3 linked regions of the Homo sapiens genome follow. The protein of the gene in region 1 interacts with the protein of each later gene in a biochemical or structural test. Each region holds a gene or a part of one and is shown on either strand. Other genes may lie near its edges.

Evidence for each region. Proteins that work in one complex are often made in the same cells at the same time.
Region 2: the proteins of OCRL (region 1) and RAB14 form a complex in vitro, tested with the Homo sapiens proteins (one study listed by BioGRID and IntAct).
Region 3: the proteins of OCRL (region 1) and TFAP2A form a complex in vitro, tested with the Homo sapiens proteins (one study listed by BioGRID).

The regions. Positions count from the first base shown.
Region 1 is NC_000023.11:129,535,313-129,543,277, forward strand, and holds the start of OCRL (inositol polyphosphate 5-phosphatase OCRL), read left to right. Parts: upstream 1-4,946; 5' UTR 4,947-5,127; coding exon 5,128-5,166; intron 5,167-5,428; coding exon of another isoform or gene 5,429-5,431; coding exon 5,432-5,511; intron 5,512-7,965. UniProt on the Homo sapiens protein: Catalyzes the hydrolysis of the 5-position phosphate of phosphatidylinositol 4,5-bisphosphate (PtdIns(4,5)P2) and phosphatidylinositol-3,4,5-bisphosphate (PtdIns(3,4,5)P3), with the greatest catalytic activity towards PtdIns(4,5)P2.
Region 2 is NC_000009.12:121,191,867-121,198,893, reverse strand, and holds part of RAB14 (ras-related protein Rab-14), read left to right. Parts: intron 1-5,474; 5' UTR 5,475-5,481; coding exon 5,482-5,533; intron 5,534-6,669; coding exon 6,670-6,723; intron 6,724-7,027.
Region 3 is NC_000006.12:10,405,072-10,412,098, forward strand, and holds part of TFAP2A (transcription factor AP-2-alpha), read right to left. Parts: exon of another isoform or gene 6,526-7,027; coding exon of another isoform or gene 6,499-6,525; intron 5,265-6,498; coding exon 4,830-5,264; intron 2,857-4,829; exon of another isoform or gene 1,774-2,856; coding exon 1,722-1,773; exon of another isoform or gene 1-1,721.

The DNA.
Region 1 (7,965 bases):
CTAGTGGGGATTTAAAAATAAATGAATCATTTATGCCTCCACTTGGCCTGCCTTCCAGCCTCTGGCTGCTGACTCACCTATACAAAATCTTCCTTCCCAGCCTCATCTATGTTAGGCAGGCCTGTTTTTGCCTTCGCAGGCCCTAAACACTGTCACTTGTGGAGACTTCAGCCAACATCATAATAAACATATTAAAATGCATCCACATCCTGCATTAAACATTTATATTTTTGCTATAAATTTTTGAAAATGCTTTGGTAATTTTGCTTTTGAAATTATTTGTCTGTGCATAACTAATTTAATTTACATGGCTGTGATTTCTCCATAAGAATTACATGTACGTGGGAATTCTTGGGAAGTGAGAAGATCCAACCTAAAAATCGTCTTCAAATATAATGGGTTTTTAAATGCATAATAAATTTAACTGTTAATGAACTTGATATACTGTTCTATTTTGTATGCCATTTAATTATTATTTTTGAATTTGTCATTTTAGTATTTTGTAGCCTTTACTTAAAAACAAATTTTTTTAGAGACAGAGTCTCCTTCTGTCGCCCAGGCTGGAGTGCTGTGGCACAATCATAGCTCACTGCAGCCTTGAACTCCTGGGCTCAAGTGATCCTCCTGCCTCAGCCTCCCGAGTAACTGGGACTGTAGGCACATACCACCATGCCCAGCTAATTTTATTTTATTTTATTTTTGTAGAGATGGGGGTCTCGTTAGATTGCCCAGGCTGATCTCAAACTTCAAATGGTCCTTCTGCTTTGGCCTCCCAAAGTGCTGGGATTGTAGTTGTGAACCACTGTGCTCGGCTCTAGTCTTTTTTAAAGATCCTGTTTTTTTTAATTTTGTTTCTGAAAAGCCTGTAAGTTCTAGACACTTAGTGATAGTTGCCTAATAGATAAAAGACAGGCACTGAGCACCCACTGAATTTGTGTGTGTTTGTGTATGTGTGTACACGCACGCATGTGCAGATGGTGGTGGTAAAGGTGGTGAGATTCATGTTTTCTTGAAGCCAGAGTTTCATTTATTTGAATTTTATTCAATTGTCTTTTAACTCTTTGCATTGGAAGCCACTTATATGCAACCATCATTTCCCCTGTGAGAGACCTCAGTTTTTAGTGTCCTTACCTCAATATATTTTAATTTCCACACAACCTCTTATTCTTCACTTAACAAATATTTATTGAGTGCCCACTATGTGCAATGCACTGTTTAGGTGCTGAGGATACTGTAAAGTTGGAGGAAGAAGTATCTCGCCTTTTCCCTAAGGCCGATTCCGCCATCTACATCTTGGATCTTTGTCCCTCTCAATTACTGAGGGATTTTGCTTGCAACCTTACTGCCTCTCTCTTCTAGCATCTTAAAAGGCCCCCTCTGGCCGGGCGCGGTGGCTCACGCCTGTAATCCCAGCACTTTGGGAGGCCGAGGCGGGTGGATCATGAGGTCAGGAGATCGAGACCATCCTGGCTAACAAGGTGAAACCCCGTCTCTACTAAAAATACAAAAAATTAGCCGGGCGCGGTGGCGGGCGCCTGTAGTCCCAGCTACTCGGGAGGCTGAGGCAGGAGAATGGCGTGAACCCAGGAAGTGGAGCTTGCAGTGAGCCGAGATTGCGCTACTGCAGTCCGCAGTCCGACCTGGGCGACAGAGCGAGACTCCGTCTCAAAAAAAAAAAAAAAAAAAAGGCCCCCTCTTTGTTGGTTCCTTCCTCTTTGCTTTAAAGTGGCTTCAGGCTTTGTCAACAACCTCTGTTTGACCCTTCTAACTAATTTAATTAAAATTGTACTTCGTTCCTTTTTATTTCCAAACCTCTTCAATCTGTGGTCTCTTGTCTCCGTTTTCTCACAATACAGTTCCTCCTCAATTCCCCATAATCTTGTTTCTATCCTCACCACTTATTGAAACCAAACAATTATTGGTCTCCAGTGAACTCCTTGACACGTCCAAAGAAAGTCTCTTTGGCCCTCATTTTCTTGTCCTATTTTCAGCATTTGATACTGCTAACCTCCCCTGCATATTCCTTCTTTATCTTTCGTTTTCATTGACTGCAAATGATTTTCAGTGCAGGAAAGTACATGGAATAACAGAACCAATATATGTACCCACCACCCAGTTCTATCAAATCTTGCAACATCACTTTTCAGATTCTGTTTTGAGAAATAAATATTAGATATATTTGATATTCTCTGTATGCCTCCCCCGAGTGTCAATCCTCTCCCTCTCTTAAATTTGGTGATCATGCCCTTTCATGTTTTATATACTATTACAGTACTACTCATCTATGTAGCCATAAGCAATAGATGATATTTTCAGACTTTATATACACAGTATACTGTACATGTTTTGCAATTTGCTTTTCACTCAACATTATATTTTTGAAATTTAGCTGTTACTACCCATAGCTCAAATTCATTCATCGAGAACACCATTATTTATTCATTCACCTGCTGACATTTACTTGGCTTCCATTTTTGAGATTACAAATAATACTGCAATGAACATTCTTTTATATGTCTCTTTGTGCATATAAAAGGTAGAGTTTTGCCAGTGTCTATATCTAGAAATAGAATTTCTAGATTGAGGGGTATTGCCTTTATTAGACATCGTCAAATTGTTCTTCATAGCAGTTCTACCAACTTAAACTCCTTCTAGCCGTAAATCAGAGTTCCACTGCTAGAACTTCAACAACACTTGGGGTTGTCTGACTTTTTAAATTTTCACAAAACCGATGGTTGTGAAATGGTATCTCGTGGTTTTACTTTTCAATTTCCCTGAATAGTAATAAAGTTAGGCATCTTTTCATGTCTTTATTGGCCATCTGGGTTTCCTTGACTATGAATTACTTACTCAGATATTTTGTCAATTTTTCTATTAGGTTTCTTTCTTATTTATAGGAGTTCTTATATATCCTGGATACCAAGTCATTCATTCATTTAATCAATATTTTTCTAGCACCTACTTGGCTCCAAGAATGGTTCTAGGCACTGAGAATGCAGCTATGATCAAAACAGACAAAATCCTTGCACTCATGGAACTCAACATTCTAGCGGGTGAAGGTAAATGACCAATAATATTGATAAATAAAACAGAAGTGGTAGATAGTGATACATAAGCAGGGAAGAGGGATAGGGAACATGTATGTGTGGTGATGGAGAAGGGGATTGTTGAATTACAATTTTCAATAAAGTGGTCTAGGAAGGCTTCAGTGAGAAAGTGACATTTGAGCAAAGACCTGAAGGAGGTGAGAGTGCATGCAGAGTGAACAGCAAGTGTAAAGGCCCTGAGGTAAGAGTGTGCCTGGCAAGTCCTAGCAACAACAAGGAGTCAGTGTGACTAAGCAAAGCTAGTTAGGGAGAGTGGTGGGAAATGGTGGGAGATGTCCGAAAGGTGATGACAGCTTGTCTTTTTTTTTTTTTTTTTTTTTTGAGACAAGGTCTTGCTCTGTCACCCAGGCTGGAGTGCAGTGGCGCCATCACAGCTCACTGTAGATGTGACCTCGCTGGCTCAAGGGGATGCTCCCACCTCAGCCTCCTGAGTAGCTGGGACTGCAAGCACTTGCCACCACATCCAGCTAATTTTTATAGTTTTTGTAGAGACAGGGTTTTGCCACGTTTCCCAGGCTGGTCTTGAACTCCTGGGCTCAAGTGATCCTACCACCTCGGCCTCCCAAAGTGCTGGGATTACAGGCATGAGCCACTGTGCAGGCCAGTTTGTCTTTTAACTTGTTTATATTGTCTTAAAGTACATACATTTTGAAATTTCATGTAGCTAAATGTCTTATTCTCATTCCATATTCCAAGCTCATACTCAATTTTTTTTTCTGAAAGTTATAAAGTTTTGCTTTTCACATTTAGATCTTTAATCCACCTGGAACTGATTTTTCTTCCATGGTTTGAGGTAGGGGTCTAATTTTTATAATTTTCCATATGGATAAGCAGTAGTCCTAGTACCACTTAGTGGATAATCCATTCTTTCCCCACTGATTTGAAATGTCCCACACGCTGCATATCAACCTTCCGTATATGTGTGGTCTGTTTGAGGGGTTTATATTGTGTTTCATTGATTGTCTATCTCCACAGCATACTTTTAATTACTACAGATTTACAGTCACTCTTGATATCTAGTGTATTATAGATTCTGGAGCAAATGAATAACACGATCGAAAAATTACTTTGGGAAAAATATTTTTATGGCTGTCAACAGAGTAAACATGTCAAAGGAAAGAGTAAACCCAACAGGATTTATTTAAAGAAAAGTGCAATAACCCAGATAGGCTATCACAAGGGCTTACAATAAAGTTATGGCAGTGTGAATGGAGAGAAAATAAGGAATCTAAAAGTAATTCCACGTAAAATATTAACAGGGTGTGTTGACTGATTGGATATAGAGATGAGGAGGGGGAAGACGATATATGGCTTTCCAGTGAAATGATAATGAGTTAGTTTTGTGACGCAGTGATGTGTTAACAATGGACTCTATTAGGTAAGAGGTCTGGGCCAGGGATATATATTTGGACATTGTCTAGTTAGAGGTGAACTGGAGGGGACGCAGAGGAGGAGCAAAGGTCTGGGCTTTGGGGAATTCTCCGATTTAGGGCGTGGAAGAAAGAAGAGGAAAGGAAATGGTAGGATAACCAACACGGGACATTATAACCTTAAGAAATATATATATATATATATATGTATTTTTTTACTGAATGATGTGGGTCGTATTGACACAACAGGTTTGAGATCTCCCATAGGTATGACTGTGTTTTGTTTCTGTGGCCTTCAAAGTCCTCAGAACAATTTTGATGTCACAGGTGGCATTTAAAACCCATTCCTTGCTGGACCTGGTAGAGACGCCCCCAGTCCGTCAGGTCTCTCGCTGCAGTTCCGCAGTTTGACCGCAGGGGACGGAATCTGCGGCGGCCTGGAAAACTGGCGGGGGCGCGAGGCGCCGCTCTCTCTTGGGTCAGATTCTCAGCTCCCAGCTCCCCGCTCCCGGCTCCCGGCGCCCGGCGCCCGGCGCGGAGCTGTTCCTCAAACGACACGCAGCCGAGGTGGGTGGGTGTGGGGACGCGGGAGCCAGTGTCGTCGGATCGGCCCGCAGTCCGCTGTCCTGCTGAGCCCGGAGGCCGCCTGGATGGAGCCGCCGCTCCCGGTCGGAGCCCAGCCGCTTGCCGTATCCGCCGGAGAGAAGGGAGAGGGGAGGCCGCGCAGGGCCGGGGGTGGGGGTCGGGGGCCCTGCGGAACACGGTGGGGCGGGGCAACCGGGTGGCCCAGAGGCCGAGCAGAGAGGGGGAGGGGGCCGGCGCGGGAGACGAAGCAGGGCGGGGCGGGGCGGGGGAGGGCGGCGGTGGGGGGGGGGTGGAAGACCCCCTTCGCCCCGCAGTGCACCACTCCTCCCCACCGCGCTTCCGAAGGAGACCCTTGACTAGCGCCCGCATACTGTCGAGGGTATGGAGATGAAGGGTCCTCTCCGGGAGCCCTGCGCCCTGACCCTAGCCCAGAGGAACGGGCAATATGAGTAAGTAACCACCTGATTCCCACAGAGGAGGGGAGCCTGCCATTACCTCCCAACCCCAAACCGCGACGGGTCACCCACTGTCCTCCTACTGAAGCCACGCGGGCAACAGGTTCAGGTCCAGGTGTGAAGTGCCAGTGCTCTCTAACCTCGGGGCTTTGTCCCCAACTTCCAAGCCTCTGGATTGTGCTTGGCAGTGTGGCTCAGTGGAAGGACTGAATGGGCGGGGAAGCAGGAAGCCTGGGTTCTTAGTTCCTGCCCCTGCAACTGACATGTGTTGTGTAACGTTGGGCAAGTCAATAAAGCTTTCTGGGCCAAAGTTAACTCTTCAGTTTAATAAAACCATTAACTGCCTTACCTTACAGCCTTTGGAATTATAACTGGGGGAAAAATAAATGCGAGAGTGGCTTCCAAAAAGTAAAAGTGCTATGGAAATGCTTCATTGTTAACGTTACAGACTTGTCTTAACCCTATTCAGCTGGTTTCTCCAGTCTCCCCGTCCCCTTATCCCACTGGGTTGAAGGCATATTCATTAATTCAGTAATGGTTTAGTGTAGGCCAGAAACTGCCTCACTTACTGACTTTACTGTTAGAAAGAAAAGGTAATGAAATGTGTAGAGATAGAAATGACAGTATTTTATCAGTGTGTCACCTTCCTCTCTGCCATAGGAGCTCCGTAAATACTGTTGACTGATTGATCAAAAGATTATTTTGATAAGCTATCACCATAGCTGCTAACCTCACTCTATTGTCACTAATATCTTATCTCAAAAATATCCATGGTGACCATTACGTATCATAGGCCCCTATCCCTGTGTGCCCAAGACACCTCACTTGGATATTCATTGGCTTCTTGACATCATATTCCTTCCCAGTTTAAAAATTGTTCACTTAAATCTTGCCATCTCCCAACATTGGCTTCTGCCTAAAACCAATTTTCTCAGTCCCCACTTTTAGATCCTCTGTATCTATGCTGTCAGATTTACACGGAAGAAATTCCCACTGGCCCAACCTGCTCTTCTCTGAGACTATTGGTGCCACTCTAACTGGATGTCAGCTAATTCTGTGAAGTAGCTCTTTCATAGGTCCTGCTTAGTCAGCTCTACTGGGAAGTTCATCAAACCCGGATTTCATCAAACCCTGGAAGACTAGTTTAATGAAACTAAACTAAATTCAGAATTTAATAAAACAAAATTCAGCAGAAAAGTGGAACACCACTAACATTTCCAAAGGCTAGAGTGGGTTACAGAGAGGTGACCCTTGGGCAAACCAGTAAAACTTGTGTGCCTTGGTTTCCTCTAATGTAAAAACAAAATCATGAAGATTGAATAGAGTAGCTACATTGTTGAGATGACCACAGCCCAGAATCTAGTCCCTCGGATTAGTAGATTTGGAACTCTGTTGAGCTAATAAGGAAGTCGTGTGTTCCAATTCTGTGTAAGTTATGGGGGTATAGTTGGGGGTATATGTGGGGGTATGGGGCTGCTATATAACTAACATTAATATATAGGTAACACTATATAACAACTATATAACTAACAACTAATATAGTTGTTGCTATATTAGCAGTTTATATATAAACTATGTAAATAGTTTTAAATATATATAAACTATAGTTTTAAATACATATAAACTATAGTTTATATATAAACTAACATATAACTAACAACTAATATAGTTGTTGCTATATAACTAACATTCAATGGCTGCTTATGTGCCAGGTACTGTTCTAAGCCCTTTTCATTAGTTAGTTCATTTAATCCACATGTGAGGGTTACTATAAGATAGTAATATCATCATCCCCCTTTTATAGATACAGAAATTGAAGCACAGACAGGTTAAGTCACTTGTTTGCAATTAGGGAGTAGAATACCTGAGATCTGATCCTATGTAACATGTCTCAGAATTACACTGAGAAGTTTCTCTTGAAAGCATTTGCTGGAGACACCTAATACCATAATACCATCTGTAATCCTCATATTCTTGTCTCTCTGGTGTCTTTTCTGACTCGAGTGTCCAGAACTTTTTACTTTTGGCTTTTTTATCCTAGAACTTGAAGCCTGACTTAAATCTTTAGGTCTGTGGTTCCTACTGTCAACCATAGGAAATTTGCTTGACCAAAATTACAATTAAAAATCAGGGTTTTTTTGGAAACAGGGAATCAAACACTTAAGATTCATATTTTTCAAGGATAATAGATTATGACAAAACCTGTTTGACCTTTAACCTTCCTTGAACAAATCAAAGTGTTTCCTAGGGATAAGGCAGAGTTGGCATTCAGGATTTGTCACTCTTTTCTGTTTGACAACTACCAAATTCTGAATTCCATTGTTTTGCTGTATACCAATTATTTCTAATCTTTATATTCTGAAATGAATAATTACACTCAGAATTTTTATGCTTATTCTTAGCCCTACTCTTTTATTGTAATTTAGTGGGTAACACGTAGTAAATACT
Region 2 (7,027 bases), on another chromosome or scaffold:
ATTTTTATTAGATTAGATTATTAGATTAACTACAGAAGTTTTATCCGCCTGACTGACAAATCAGGTAGTAGTGGTCCATTTTAGTGGGCCTCTAAAGCAAGTCAGCATGCTTCTGTTGTTGAGTTCCACGAAGGCAGAGACAGTGTTGTCTTTTTTGATCATTGCTGTCTTGCTAAAGCCTGGCACAATGCTTTGTGCTTAGTAGATACTTAACAGATATGTTTATGTTGGAACTACAGAAGCAGTCCATCTCAGCTCTGGTATTTTTAACAAAACGTCGTGCATGTTAAAAAACAAACAAAAAACTTATCAGTGGAAATAACAAGGATAAGAATTAAATTACCTGGAATATTTAATGGGTTGCTTTTCCCTTGTTATGTCTTGGATCAGCTATGTAAAAATTATACAGTAACATCATAGGTTCTAAGGAGTAGAATAGCTGTATAACAGTTTTTAAAATCAGAGCAAACAGTAAGTAGTTAAGCTATTAAAAAACTCCCAAAAATATGCCCTCTACTATTGAGTGTTGGTTTTTCTATTTTGAACCCAATCGTATTATTGGCTTCATAAGATATTCCTCTTATTATCAGTAAATGCGGAAATAATGTTGGGAATATTATGAGTGGGAGATTTGTTTGTTTTTGTTTGGGTATTCTTTAACCTGTATTAAAATAGAAAAGGGCTTTTGAAATATTTATCGGTAGAGAAAATTTTATTTTTAATTCATTATAGTAAGTCAGTGCAGGGATATATAAAGAAAAGTTAATAATTTCTCTATTCCCTGTTTCTCCTGTCCATGTATTTTTCACAATTTGGTGTGTATTCCATATTATATGAATATAGGGTTGAGTGTGTGTGTGTGTGTGTGTGTGTTTGAAAGTGGGGTATGCTGTTGCATAAAACTCTGCAACATGTGTTTTTTCACTTAACAAAATCATGGATGTATTTCCAGGTTAATGCATATCAATCAAAATGGTTTCTAAACTACATGGATATTATTTTGTATTATAGATGTACTTTATTCAGTCATTTCTTTGCTGATTATTTCCAGTTTTTTGCTGTAAAAATGGTGCATTAAATGCACTAATACCTGTAGCCTTATGGGCTGAAGCTTTTGTATATGTAGGATACTTTCTGGGCCAAAGGATGATTTGGATTATTGTTAAGATTTTTAAACATACTGATTACTTTCCAAAATGTTGGCACATTTCCACAAGCAGTATGTATGAAAGTGTATACCTTCACATCTGTACCTACATGTTTCAAAACTAGTCGTTTATATGTCTGTGTAATCTTAGAAAGGTGTCTGATTCAGTAAATAGAAACCATGCATTCTATTTTTGTCACAACAATAATTAGTGTTTAATATTTGTTCAGTAACCACTTAGATCTAAATGTACTGACATGAAAATGTGTCTATCATTTTGTTGAGTAAAAGAAATATGCAGAATTTTACAAGATGGCGTACCCCATTTTAAAATACATTTTTCACCTTAACAGTGGTGAAAATGGTGGTGAAAAATGGTATATTTTCACAGTGGTGAAATGGTATGTTTCCCCAGTGGTGAAAACTGGTATGTTTCATGTTCAGGAGATGAGGTTGAGAAATCCTTTATTAAAGCAATATTAAGCATATTAATATTTTTAAGGAGTCAGTTGAATACATGGCACAGTTGTTAGTGTTTACTATGCATTTAGTAAATATTTCTCTTGGCAGCAAGGGTAGTTTATAGCTAAATTTTACATGCACTAATATCCTTCCTCTTTCTCTGATTTTTATTTTATCAGTCTACCTGTACATACCTGAAATAAGCTAATAATACCTTAGAGAAAATCATGGTCTTTGGAATCAGGCCTGGGTTCAAGTTCTAGGTCTACCATTTACAAACTTTATAACATTGGCCAAATGAGTGAATTTCTCCAAACCTCAGTTTCTTTAATTTTTTGCATGGACATAATGATAATGACTCTGCAGAGTTGTGAGAATTAAGTAAGAATTATAAAAAGTAGTATAGATCATTACATGGTTTACTCTCAAGTGTTCTCAAGAAACTTTTTCTAAGTAAATGAATTATAGTATTATAAGTTAGTATTACTAGTATTACCAGTCATTTATATCTATAAATTCTGACTGCAGTGCATCCTCTGAATGTAATTCATGTATCTTATTCAGAATATTAAATTATAATTAAGCGAGTGAATACTGCAGAGCTACATGGTACAGCTGATAACCATGTGGAGGAGGCACGACGGTGGAGAGGGCAGGATGGTGTGGTGGTTAAGAGGGGATCTCTGTAGTTAAAACAGTCCTAGGTTCAGTACAGACTTGGCTGTGTGACCTGGGCATGTTACCTCTTGAGTCTGTGTCCTCATCTGTAAAATGAGGATAATAATTAACTATGTTATAGGATAGTAGTAAGGATTAAATGAAATTGTATGTAAAATATTTAGCACATTGCCCGGCATATGTCAAGTACCCAATAAATAGTAACTCACAATTGTATTTCTTATTAGTTTGCAAATTGTTGATTATGTGTTAAATGCCTGTTGTCTAAATATGTGGTACTTTTTTTCCTTTAAAGGCAATAAAGATCTTTTACTTACATATGAACTTGATTCGAATACTTTCTGTAAAATGTGGAATAAAGTGAATTTTAATTGTCCCGGTAGTTGTATACAAGTTATAGAATATTACCAGGATTTTTTTTTTCATTTATGGGGATTGTAATGTTAAGTGGGCTCATGTTTTCAGAGTTTGAACCAGACCAGCATTTCCTGTCCTTTTTTTTAGACTCAAGAGTTCTCTAAGTAAAGCAAAAGTACTGTTAAATAATAGGGGAAGAATTTTTTCCCTTCCAAAGTTAGGTAAAAATATATTCCTCACCTTAACAATAGTATGTTTCATGTTCAAGAAATGAGACTGAGAAATCTTTTGTTAAAGCAACATTAAGCCTATTTAGTATTGAATATAATTCTACTGCAAATACTTTTGACTGAAATGTATTAATATCAGTCAACTATGGGAATATATTTAAATCTAGACAGTATCTTCTTAGAATAAGAAAGGGAAGACCTGTTGTGAGTGTTGGTGGCTACAGTGTTAAATGTTTTCTGCCTTTGTTTACTGAAATTAGTAAGTTTGAGTAGTTTTCCTTTAATTCTGCTTTTATGGTTTTTATTTGTAATTTTTAAAGAAACGAGCAAGAAAAATGTGTGGTGTGGTGAGACAGAGCCCTGGTATTAAATCCGAAATAGTGATCATTTCTTTTATTTGGAAATAGTTTCTACTATATGAATGTTTGTAATTTTAAGATACATTTTCAAAATTAGTTATCTCACATTTAATGAATGTATGATAATTAGCAGGTACACAAATTAGTACAACTAAAATTGGGTCACAATTTTATGATAGTCTTTAAAGCATTTGAAGTAGAAATTTGGGATTGTTAGAAGTCATAGCTTTAACATAAAATAGAAGGAGCAAAGTATGTACAGCTACAACCTTTAGTTAGAAGAGGGAAAGAAATTAGGAAAATCAAGGGAGAAGAGCACAGAAGAGACAGTAATTTGAAGGTGACTAAGTGATTACTTTTACCCAGGTTTGAATGGGGAAAGAATTTAGAAGAATTAAAAATTGATTAGAAGAGTCGGAAGAATTCAAGTTAAGAAGTTAATAATCTTTAAATATTTTTAATGTAAGAGATTACTTTTCCCCCTTGTGTTTGGCATCTGGTTCAGAGATCAGGTAAATAATCCAGACCAGTTTTAGTCTCAGGACCAAGTTCATTCTTAAAAGTTTTGAGTTCCTAGTGCCTGGAAAAGGGAATAAAGTTGTTGTGATGTTCAGAATCAGTTAATCTAACTAGAAAAACTCCCTTTCCTGAAAGAACTGGTTAAGGGAGTTTTCTGTGATGCAGGAGACTGATTATAAATGTGTTAGAACATGCCAAACTGGAATGGGTAACAAGGCTTCTACTTTCACTAAATGTAATACAGATAGCTAAGTGAGAAGACTGTAGTGTGTGGAAGTGATTAATACTTTACTGTAATTAACAACTTCCTCTTCCCTTATAATAATACACTTGTTTTAAATATATATTCTTTCTACGGGTTCAATGTTGTTATATAGAACTTTTGCTTGAAATATGGTATATAGTAAGGTGATAATTTCAGTAAATAAATTTCTCCAGTCATATTAAATGTCTGGCTTGTGTAATGTGACATTGACAGAAACACTAAAAGCCAGGCTTAAAAATACTGTAAGTCAGATTTTTTTAAATGGGTGAAATCTTTATATGTATAAATAATTTTTGTCTTAAGCTGAAAGCTGGTTTGAGAATAAACTTTATTGAAAGTTATTACCAGTTTTACAGTTCAGCCCCTTGTTTCTCTCTAGGACCTAGCACGTGTCTTACACATTCAGATAATTCATTTGAATAAATTGGAAAGTTTTTTGTTTTCTTTTTAAGTAGAAGAGAAATTAGAATTCTTTAGGTTAAGTCTATTTGAGGGTAAGAAATGGGCTGTGATCTTTTGAAATATCTTCTAATACACAAGCTTTCAAATTTTGCAACCATAAGTACAATTTTATGACATTATTTCTTTCAGTCCCTAGAATAGTGTATGGGAAGCACTTACTATGTTGTTAATCTGGCTGGGCACAGTGGCTCATGCCTGTAATCCTAGCACTTTGGGAGACTGAGATGGGAGGGACGCTTAAGGCCAGGAGTTCAAGACCCAAGACCAGCCTGGTCTTCAAAAAATGTGTGTGTGTGTGTGTGTGTGTGTGTGTGTGTGTGAGTGATAATCTGCAAGTCCTGTATTAGGTTGAGCTATATGAAAATGCCAATAAACTTTGACTTGAAAAATCTATAGGAAGAACAGTTTCATGTGATTCAGTCTAGTTCCAACATTGATTTGGAAATCATACGATTGCTCTTTGCGCTGCTAACTGTTGATTTAAAGTAGAGTAAAAACGTTGTTTTGTGTTTATAAATTAAGTGGTTCCTTTATATACCATTCTGTTTAATATCAGAGTTCTGAACAAGTAGATCATTAGTAACTTACTTGATCAGTTAACAGGGAAGGGGACTTTAAGGGGAGAAGAGACTATAGTGATGTTTAACTTAAATTTATAAAGATTTTTTTGTTTGACAATTTTCAGATTAATACTTATTGGATTTTTTTTAAATTATACTTTTAAGTTCTAGTGGATATTAAGTGAAATATTGGAGTTGTGGTATAAATGGTTTCTTATATTTCTGTGGATAGCACATGAGAATGTGTAAGCATCATTCATCCAAGAGAATTTGTGTATTTGATCAGTTTGTGAAATGCAGTTTTATTTTGACTTACTGTAACCAACATTTGTTTGTATTCAGTGTCCTTTTCTACCTTTAAAGGATATCAGTCATCCGTTTGAATTACTTGTATATGCTTTCCTTCTGAAGTAACAGAGATTTCTTTGTTTTTAGTGCCACCATGGCAACTGCACCATACAACTACTCTTACATCTTTAAATATATTATTATTGGTAAGTTTATTTAACTTACACTCTTGTTCCCAAAAGAAGGTTAACATACAAAATATTTATATGTTAATACTTAAACAGTACCACTTCAGGACTGAGTGATTTTCTTACTGTAAAACTAAAACTCCTTTTATAAGATTTATTTTTGCATTAGCAATGCAGCTTTTGCATTGTGGCCATGGATATTTCTGTGGTACAGTGCTGGTGGGTACCTTGTGAAGTGATGTTCATTGTTCTTGAGGGCTGCTTGAAAGCTTTTTGATGCTAGGAAGTATCAGTGTTTCAAGGAGTGCAGAAACATTCCTAAAATACTGTGAAAGCTCTCAGATTCCCCTGGGTTTCTGTTATAAGGAAAAATTGGTAGAGAATATTGTTTGATTCCAAATCAATTGTGTAATATATATAAAATATAGTATTTTTCTTAATTGGTGTTTTTTTCCTTAAGTTTCAAGAAGGTTTTGCTCAAATTAAGTCTTAATGCTATTTATCCAAACATAAAACTACATTTGAAAGTACACGTTTTTCAATGAATTGTTCACATTAGAACAGTTTGCTTTCATGTTGAACTTAATGTGTCCTTTCTAATGTTTCCTTCATCAAGGGTTAACATTGCTATAGTACAGTCAGAGATGACATCTTTTCTCCTGGGGTTTTCATGTAATGCAAATTCTTTTCTTTCATAGAATAATACAAGAAGTATAAGACAGGGACCTAGTGAATCAAGCTTCCAGAACTCAGTTTGTTATTTCTGCTTGTTACATGCTACCCCATTTGTCAGTTTTTGAAATTTGTTGCTTTTATGCATGAGTTTAAGGAAAAAAACAAAAGAAAACAAAAACATAAAATTTTGAAACAGCTCAAAGTAAAAAAAATTCCATTAAAAAAATAAGCACTTCCCAGCTGGTGGCTATTTATTAACAGTAATAATTTACAGCCAAATTCTGTCACTGCTAAAGATTGGGAATAATATTCCATTTGTGTCTCACAGTGAAAACTTTTGAATCATTATAAAGTAGGAAAATAAAAATTTGTTAAGTGTCCCAGAAACTTGTGATATGTTATATGGTAAGGAATATAGCGATCATTGCATAAAATTGAGAAATGTAATTGCCACCTGAAACTTCTTTTTTTTTAAACAGGGGACATGGGAGTAGGAAAATCTTGCTTGCTTCATCAATTTACAGAAAAAAAATGTAAGTTCAATACATGAGGTAAACATTAATAGTTTTCTTTATCGCCATGTTTCTACTTTTTAGAAAGTGTCATTTTCAGTATACTTCATGCATTTAAATATAACCTTTCCCTATATTTGTACTTTTTTTAAATGGGTACAGATAAAATGAAATATGCCAGCATATTTTAGGGTTGATTTTTATACACATTATATAATCTGATTTGCTTGTTTTGATTTCTTGATGTTAAAATAATTTTTAAAAATACATAAAATAATGTCAAACTTAATCTTTTTATTCTCTGACTTTCTGTTACAGGAATTGA
Region 3 (7,027 bases), on another chromosome or scaffold:
CGGAGTGGGCCCCAGATGAGGTCCAGGACCACGGGTTCAGGGTGCAGGGGAGGGAATTACATTTGCAAACCGAGAGCAAGTTACTTGTACTTCAGGGGTTTTGCTGGGTGGGGTTTTAGTGTCGGGGAAAAACTGCTTCAAAGACCCATTATTAAAATCAGCCGACAATTTAGATGGCTAAAGCACCCTGTAAACGAGCGTTTTAATTGAGGCACCACGCTGGGAAGTGGTGGATTTTGTTGTCCACACCACACGTCCCGTCTTTTTGATAAATAGGCCCTTTCCTATGTTCAATTTTGAAAACGTCTCAGTTTTGGAGATCCATTCCAAGGCCAGTTTTGAACTGCGGAGTGGGGAGGGAAGAACAGGCCTACAGTGGAATACTAGCAATGTGCCCTTTTGTTAAGTAAATACTTAACAGTCCTCTGCTAAAGCGCCTTTATTGGGAAAGTGGGTATATATACTTCCTAGTTAAAACCATAAGCTCTTTATTGCTGGACTCACCACTGTTAGAAAAAAAAAAAATAGAAGACCTGCAGAAAGTATACTAATGCATTACGTTTCTCAGCACCAGTGTAATTCAGATGCATTCACAACCATTTAAGTACAGTATGCATTGTATTTTAAAATTCCATTTGGAGACATCATATGCACACAATCTCATCACAGTGTTCCTTATGCGTTCTTTAATGGGGATATGCTAGAGGTATAGGGAGGTGGGGGGCTCTAGGTTTTGGATAGATCACTTGTGACATTAATAGCTCTGGGGAGGCTAATAGAGACAATAGGAGTTAAACGAACTCTTGAGAGATTACTAATAAAAGAGCCAATTATCATGTCGACTTGGAAAGAGCATCTCTTAAGATTTATCCCTTGCACATCTAATTTGACGTGACAAAGACTTCACAGATGCAAAAATGAAACTTTAAACTAGCTAACAATATACTGATTGGGGTTAGAAATGAGAACAGTTTTATATAGCATCGTCCTCTGGTGGTGCCTAGAATCCTGAAATGTAACATTGCCACCATAACCAAAAAAAAAGCTGCTACCAAGAGTGAATAGCATTTAATTCAGTAAACTTTATTTCTACTCACTAAACACAATACAGATTACAAATCCATGCAAATCACTTGACACTTTTCTAACAATTTCTCCTCTGAACAAGTATGCTAATATTCCTCCCATCTTCAAGATACTAATTTTAACCAAAAGCTAAAATTTTGTTAACCTAATTCACAAAGTTCTAAGACCCTTAAACAGCTAACAAGAAACTAAATTGAAGAACATGAATGTTTTTTTCCTCTACTAAAGAGTGCTTCTTATCATCTGTTCTTACATTAATGTTAAATTATTTGTACTATTTTAGCATTATACACTTCTTAACCTTCATCCAGGCAATGGATTAAACTATCAAACTGTTTCAAAATTGAAATGCCACTTCCAAATCAGTTCAACTACTGTACATTTTGTGTGTTTGTCCAAATATCATTAAACTAAATTAAATGGTCAAATCATGAGTCAGAACAAAGCTAGCCTGTTGGCATTACCAACATACTGAAGGCTGATTATTTAAGCATTGCTGTTCTGTGCCTATCTATTTGCTAATTCTGAGCCTTTAGGAAATCCTATTTGGAAAAAATAAACACATCTCTGCAAGTTCTTTTAAATAGCACTCTGCCTGTAAGGACATGCTTGGAATGCAGAAGGAAATGGCTTACCTTTCTTAATTACAGTTTGATCTGGGATGTTAATACCCGGGTCTTCTACATGCTGCAACAAAAGGATACACATGGATGTAAGTGTATCATCAAAACAAAAGGAAATGAATATTCCCTGCAAGATGGGAGGAGGGGAAGGTGTAGAATCAAAATTCCCCCTCCCGTATAATGACATTTATATATAAACATCTCATCTTGGCTTATTGGAATTTGGGGCTTTGCAACTCAAGAGGTTTCACTGCACACCCATGGCCAATTTCTCCTCCTCCAGCAAATAATCCATGTTTAAAAGGGGTGGAGATGGGGAATAAAACTTTCTTTGGAAATTAAATCAAGTGTTGGAGCACCTAATCATTCTCAGTCAGTTCAACATTTAGAAATGTACCTAGCTTTAGATTGGCGCCTCAGCGGCTTCTGACTTTAGCAATTCCAGTGTTCAGGCAGCGAAAGCCAGGGAAACACAATAGAAATGACAGGGGCGGGAGTAACAGGAGAGTGTTGGAAAAGAAAAGGTTTAGGTAGTATAATAAAGAGCAAACACACACACCTTTATGGAAAACTCCACATAAATTTTTAGAAAGACTACTGCCTAAGCCTGGGTATGATAGGAATATGAAAATGACCAAAACCAAAAAACCTTTGAGCTTGCTTTCCTGTTGTCCAACAGCAGGTTTGTTGTTAGTGTGGGGTGTTTTTCTTTTTCTTTTCTTTTTTTTTTTTTTTTTTACAGATGGATGGGTATACGTGTGCGCACTAGAGTCAAAACGTGATTAGAAAGTAAAATGAAGTCATGTTTTCTAATGCAGAAACTGACAGGCAATATAATGTCTGGCTGTGTTTACAAATTAGCACCAGGGCTGCTGAGATAGAAGATTTTGCAATCATTACCAAACACAGGCATTACCATTTAAAAAACTATTGCTTCCTTCTCTAGTCTTTGTCCAACAATAATACTGATTCGAACATTTTCCATTCTGTCTTGGATTTATGCTCCTGTTAATTGTGCCTGATCGCAATGATTCCGGGTGGATGGTACTAAGTTGCTTTATTACAGGTTTTATTATACTCAATGCTCTCATTTGTAACTTGCCTAAAGTGCTTCTGGATTTAAGTATAATTAAATTGAGAAATGTTCAGAAATGACTACTGCTGCAGTTCTTGTGTTTTAACTATATGGGGAAATATGATCCCTTTATGCATGCACCCTAAACCCATAAAGTAAATGTAGTGTGGCATAATACTTTTATTTGTGTTATTTCTAGACCTTGTCCATACAGGGAAGACTGTTAAGTTTAAAACCCCACTGAGATATTAATGATTAAATAATTTTCACCATCGATTTGATTTTCTTAAATATTTAGCAGTTATACTTACTAAAGGTTAACTGTTGCAGCAATGGGAAAAAATTGAAAACAACCTTTTTCTTGACCCAAATTCCTTTGAAAGAATTTTTTTCTTAAAAGATGGGGGAGGGAGAGGGAAAAACAGCAACTGGGTTTCCTTGTTTTTGTTTAATCTTTTAGTTAGTTTCTCCTACTGACCAATTTTGCCACAAAGAGTGAGTATACAGGTGTTAAGAATTCACCTTGAAATTTTTGCAAAGTAGAGCAATTCTCATTCACAGTAGTTCCAAAAGCTTGCAACATTATTTTGCAATTCAAATATTTTCAAAGAACAAGCAAGGAAAAGATTCAGAGTGCTTTGGGAAAGGGAACTAAAATAATCATAACTCCCAGTTCATGTTTAAATTGCTCTTATATAAATTAGTGCTCCTCTCACTTCCAAAAAAATGCACTGTTAAGTATCAGTTTCTAAAAACATGTAAGTATGAACACACATATACAGACATACAGTGCTCACTAAACCTTATACTGGATCAAGTGCCCACTTTCCTGCCTTCCATGCAAGGGCTGCTAAACATAACCAACAAATTTCAGTGACTAACTGGGCCAAATGAGAGATGTAATAAATTTTCTATTTTCCTACGGAACTTAAATAATGTTTTAAATTCACCAAGCAAGGAGGTAAGTTCATCTGACCATTTTCCTTACAATCTAATGTAGTAATCATTAAACTGTCAACGGACATACTGCTGCAATATTTGATGCAGTAATTTGAAATAGCATTTTAGTAAAAATCACATCCAGATACATTTCCTCTCCAAAGAAAAGCAGCTTTAACAGAAGCCTTTACAGCTTTAATAAAATTATTGGCTTGCTCTAATTCCATTTCAGGAGGGTTGTGAGGAAACCATAAATATATAGAATTGAAGCAGAGGTACTGGTTTAAGTTTAATTCCAGAAAGTATTTTCAAATTATCAATAGCCTGGTTTGCATTGTAAATAGTAAATGTGCTAATGCCATGCTTATTTAGAAATCATTTTAAACTGCATTTATTGATAACTAAATTAGAACTCAAATAATGTATTACCCAATAGTCTCGAAACATTTAATTTAATATGGAGTGTAGCAGGTTCTGATAGGCGTTGGGAACCTAGCTAATGATTTATGAGGTCACCACTTAGCACCCCTAGTAAGAAGAAGGCTGCATTTTAATGTCCCTCTGCTTGGATTTGCTACTTAGTTTTTCTTTAATCAGGATAGGGTGTACACATAACTTTTAGGTTTCACTTGTGCTTATAAAATCCGGTTAAAATGATCTTAGTGTGTCTTTTACACTTCCTTTTACATTTTGAGGACATTTAATGAGCTCTTTTGGTTGCATTTAACATCATTCCCAGGACAGGGAGAAATCTCCACGCCAGACTCAGCGATGGAAGTAGATCTTTTAGCAATTGAGACAGTTTACTGTCGTCGAGAGGAAGATATTGTTAATGGTGACATTCGTCTGATTTATCTGTGTTGGTGGAAATGGTAATGCAGGCATTGTTTGAGGGAGCTCCAGAAACCATTGTTCTGGGGTAGAACTCGCAACTACTTTGTGTGGTTCCTCAAAACGTCCCTCACTCTCCGCCTCCGAATAAAATGTTTTTATAAGGAAATACTAGGGAGAACCCGGGCCCACCGACTGTATGTTCCAGGTATCCTTTCTGGGGTAGGTAAGTAGGGGGCTGTGTTCCCTCCCGCGCTGGTTGCGCGGCCTCTTACCGGGACCTCCTCGATGGCGTGAGGTAAGGAGTGGATCGAGAGGTCTCCGAGTCCTGAGCTGAGCGCGTGTGGGCCGTGCAGGAGGTCCTCGTGCCGCCTGTAGTCCCTGCGAGGATCCAGGCCCGACAGCTGGTGAGGCAGCCCCCGGTGCGTGTGCAGGAGCCCAGACTCCTGGCTCTGCCTCTGGCCGGGCCAGCCTGGGTGCTGCGGCTGCGGCTGGGCGTGCAGGGGGTTCAGGCTGTAGGGGTCGTTGACGTGGGAGTAAGGATCTTGCGACTGGGGGTAGATAGGCTGGTAGGGTGGGGGGAAGTATGGGGGCTGGAAGTCGGCATTGGGGGTGTGGGACAGCGGCGGGGCGCTCGTGTAGGGAGATTGACCTACAGTGCCCAGCTGGGGCAACCGTGCCGTCCCGTTGCTGGTGCCGTCGTGACGGTCCTAGAAGAGAGCGAGAGGAAAGGTAAAGAACAAGGAATCAGGCGTCGAGCTACAACTATCCACACAAAATCCACTTGACAAGTCTGCGTGGGAAATCGCCCGTTCCCGTTGGCTGGCCGCCGGGAAAAAATCAGCTCTAAGTTCTTTTCAGGAAATACCCTCAAGTGAAACAGACCGAACAACGCAGAGAAACTGTATATGGAGGGGGCACAAGAGACTATTTAGGGGTTTCTTTCAAAGAGAGGAAAAGATAGAAAAGGGTCTCCTGGAACACAGCCCATTAAACTGCAGCGTGAAATCTCTCTTAAGCAAAATTAAAATTCCTCCTAAATACTAAACAGCAGAAGCGGCCTTTTCTTTTCCCCCGATTTGAACCTGTCTGCCACTGCGTTATTGTTTATTCTCTTCCATTTATTTGGAGAGAAAAAAATCATAAACGTTCAAAGACTGTTACCGTTTCATGACTACTTAAATAGAAACATATTTCGCAGAGGGGCTGTAACAAAAACACACGTTTAAATTACCAGCTTAAAGAAGGTTTTAACTGCAGGATCGGGGTCTGTCTTTTTCGCTTCCTCTGTTAGGAGCCTTTTTCTCGACAGAGTCGATTTATGGTTTGGATAGGGAAAGGGGGACGTCAAGTCAAGGTTTAAAATAGAAAGATTCAGCCTTATTGGGTTTAAAAGAGAGAGGTGCACCCCGGGGCTGTGGCCCCCCCCCCCCGCCCCTTCCACCCCAGCCCCAAAGGGCAGAAGAAACGCCTGACTTTAGGTTTCTCTATTGCAATTCCCTTGCAAAACAAGCGAAGAGAGTTGATTCCAGAGACCGCGAACCCTCGGCGGTTCGGCCGCAGGTCCCGAGGGTAGGGGGCACACCGCGCTGCACTTTTCCTGCAGACAGTTTAAGCATCAAATGTTGAGAACATCTCGGGGACAAGTGAAGACTCAAGGAAATCAAGATGAACGTGGGGAGAAACACGCCTTGGGAAGCCGCGGCGAGGTAGGTCTGCGTGCTCGGAGAGGTCGAGCGGGGGCTGGGGTAGGGGGTAATGCACTCGATTTAGGGATGGAAAAGAGCGAGAGAAAGGCGGAAGGTGGGGTGGGGGATGCAAATGGAGAGGGTGTCCTGAAGGAAAGCTGGGCGTGAAACCCGAGGTTTCGGGCAGCTCCACGGCACCAGGTTTCCAGAATCCAATTCCTAAAGAAACAGCAACGGGGGTGGGGATGGGACTCACCATGGCTGAAAAACTGTGAACTAACATCTGCGAAGAGTCTGGGGTAACGAGTCAGGGTGGAAAAAAACAAGCAAGCCTGGAGCGCCCGGCTGCCCCGCCGCCCGAGCGCGCCCCACACAAAAGGCGCCGAGAGCCCCGCGCCACCCAGGACTCCAGTCACGGCGCCGACGCTCCCCGGAGCGCGGGAGCCCGGCTCGGATCCATCCGAACTTGAACCACCGATTCGCGCGGCGCCTTCAGCTGGTCGAACCCACGGTCTCTATCCTGCCGCGACTGGTTATGATTCAAAGTTCTTTAAAAATGAAAAACCCCAAAAAAGGAAAAAGGAAAAAGTATGTGTGAGTGTGTGGGTGCGTGCGTGTTCCTTAATCCGTGTCTCCCCCTCTTTTCTTAGCGGCGGCTTCGCTTGAGCTTCTAATAACCGCGCTGGGCAGCGTTCCTGGAGCCTCCTAATAGCAGATATTCATGACTATTAATATTACACGAATACTTAATAAGGGAAGAATGCCTGGAAATCGAGCGTGAAGCG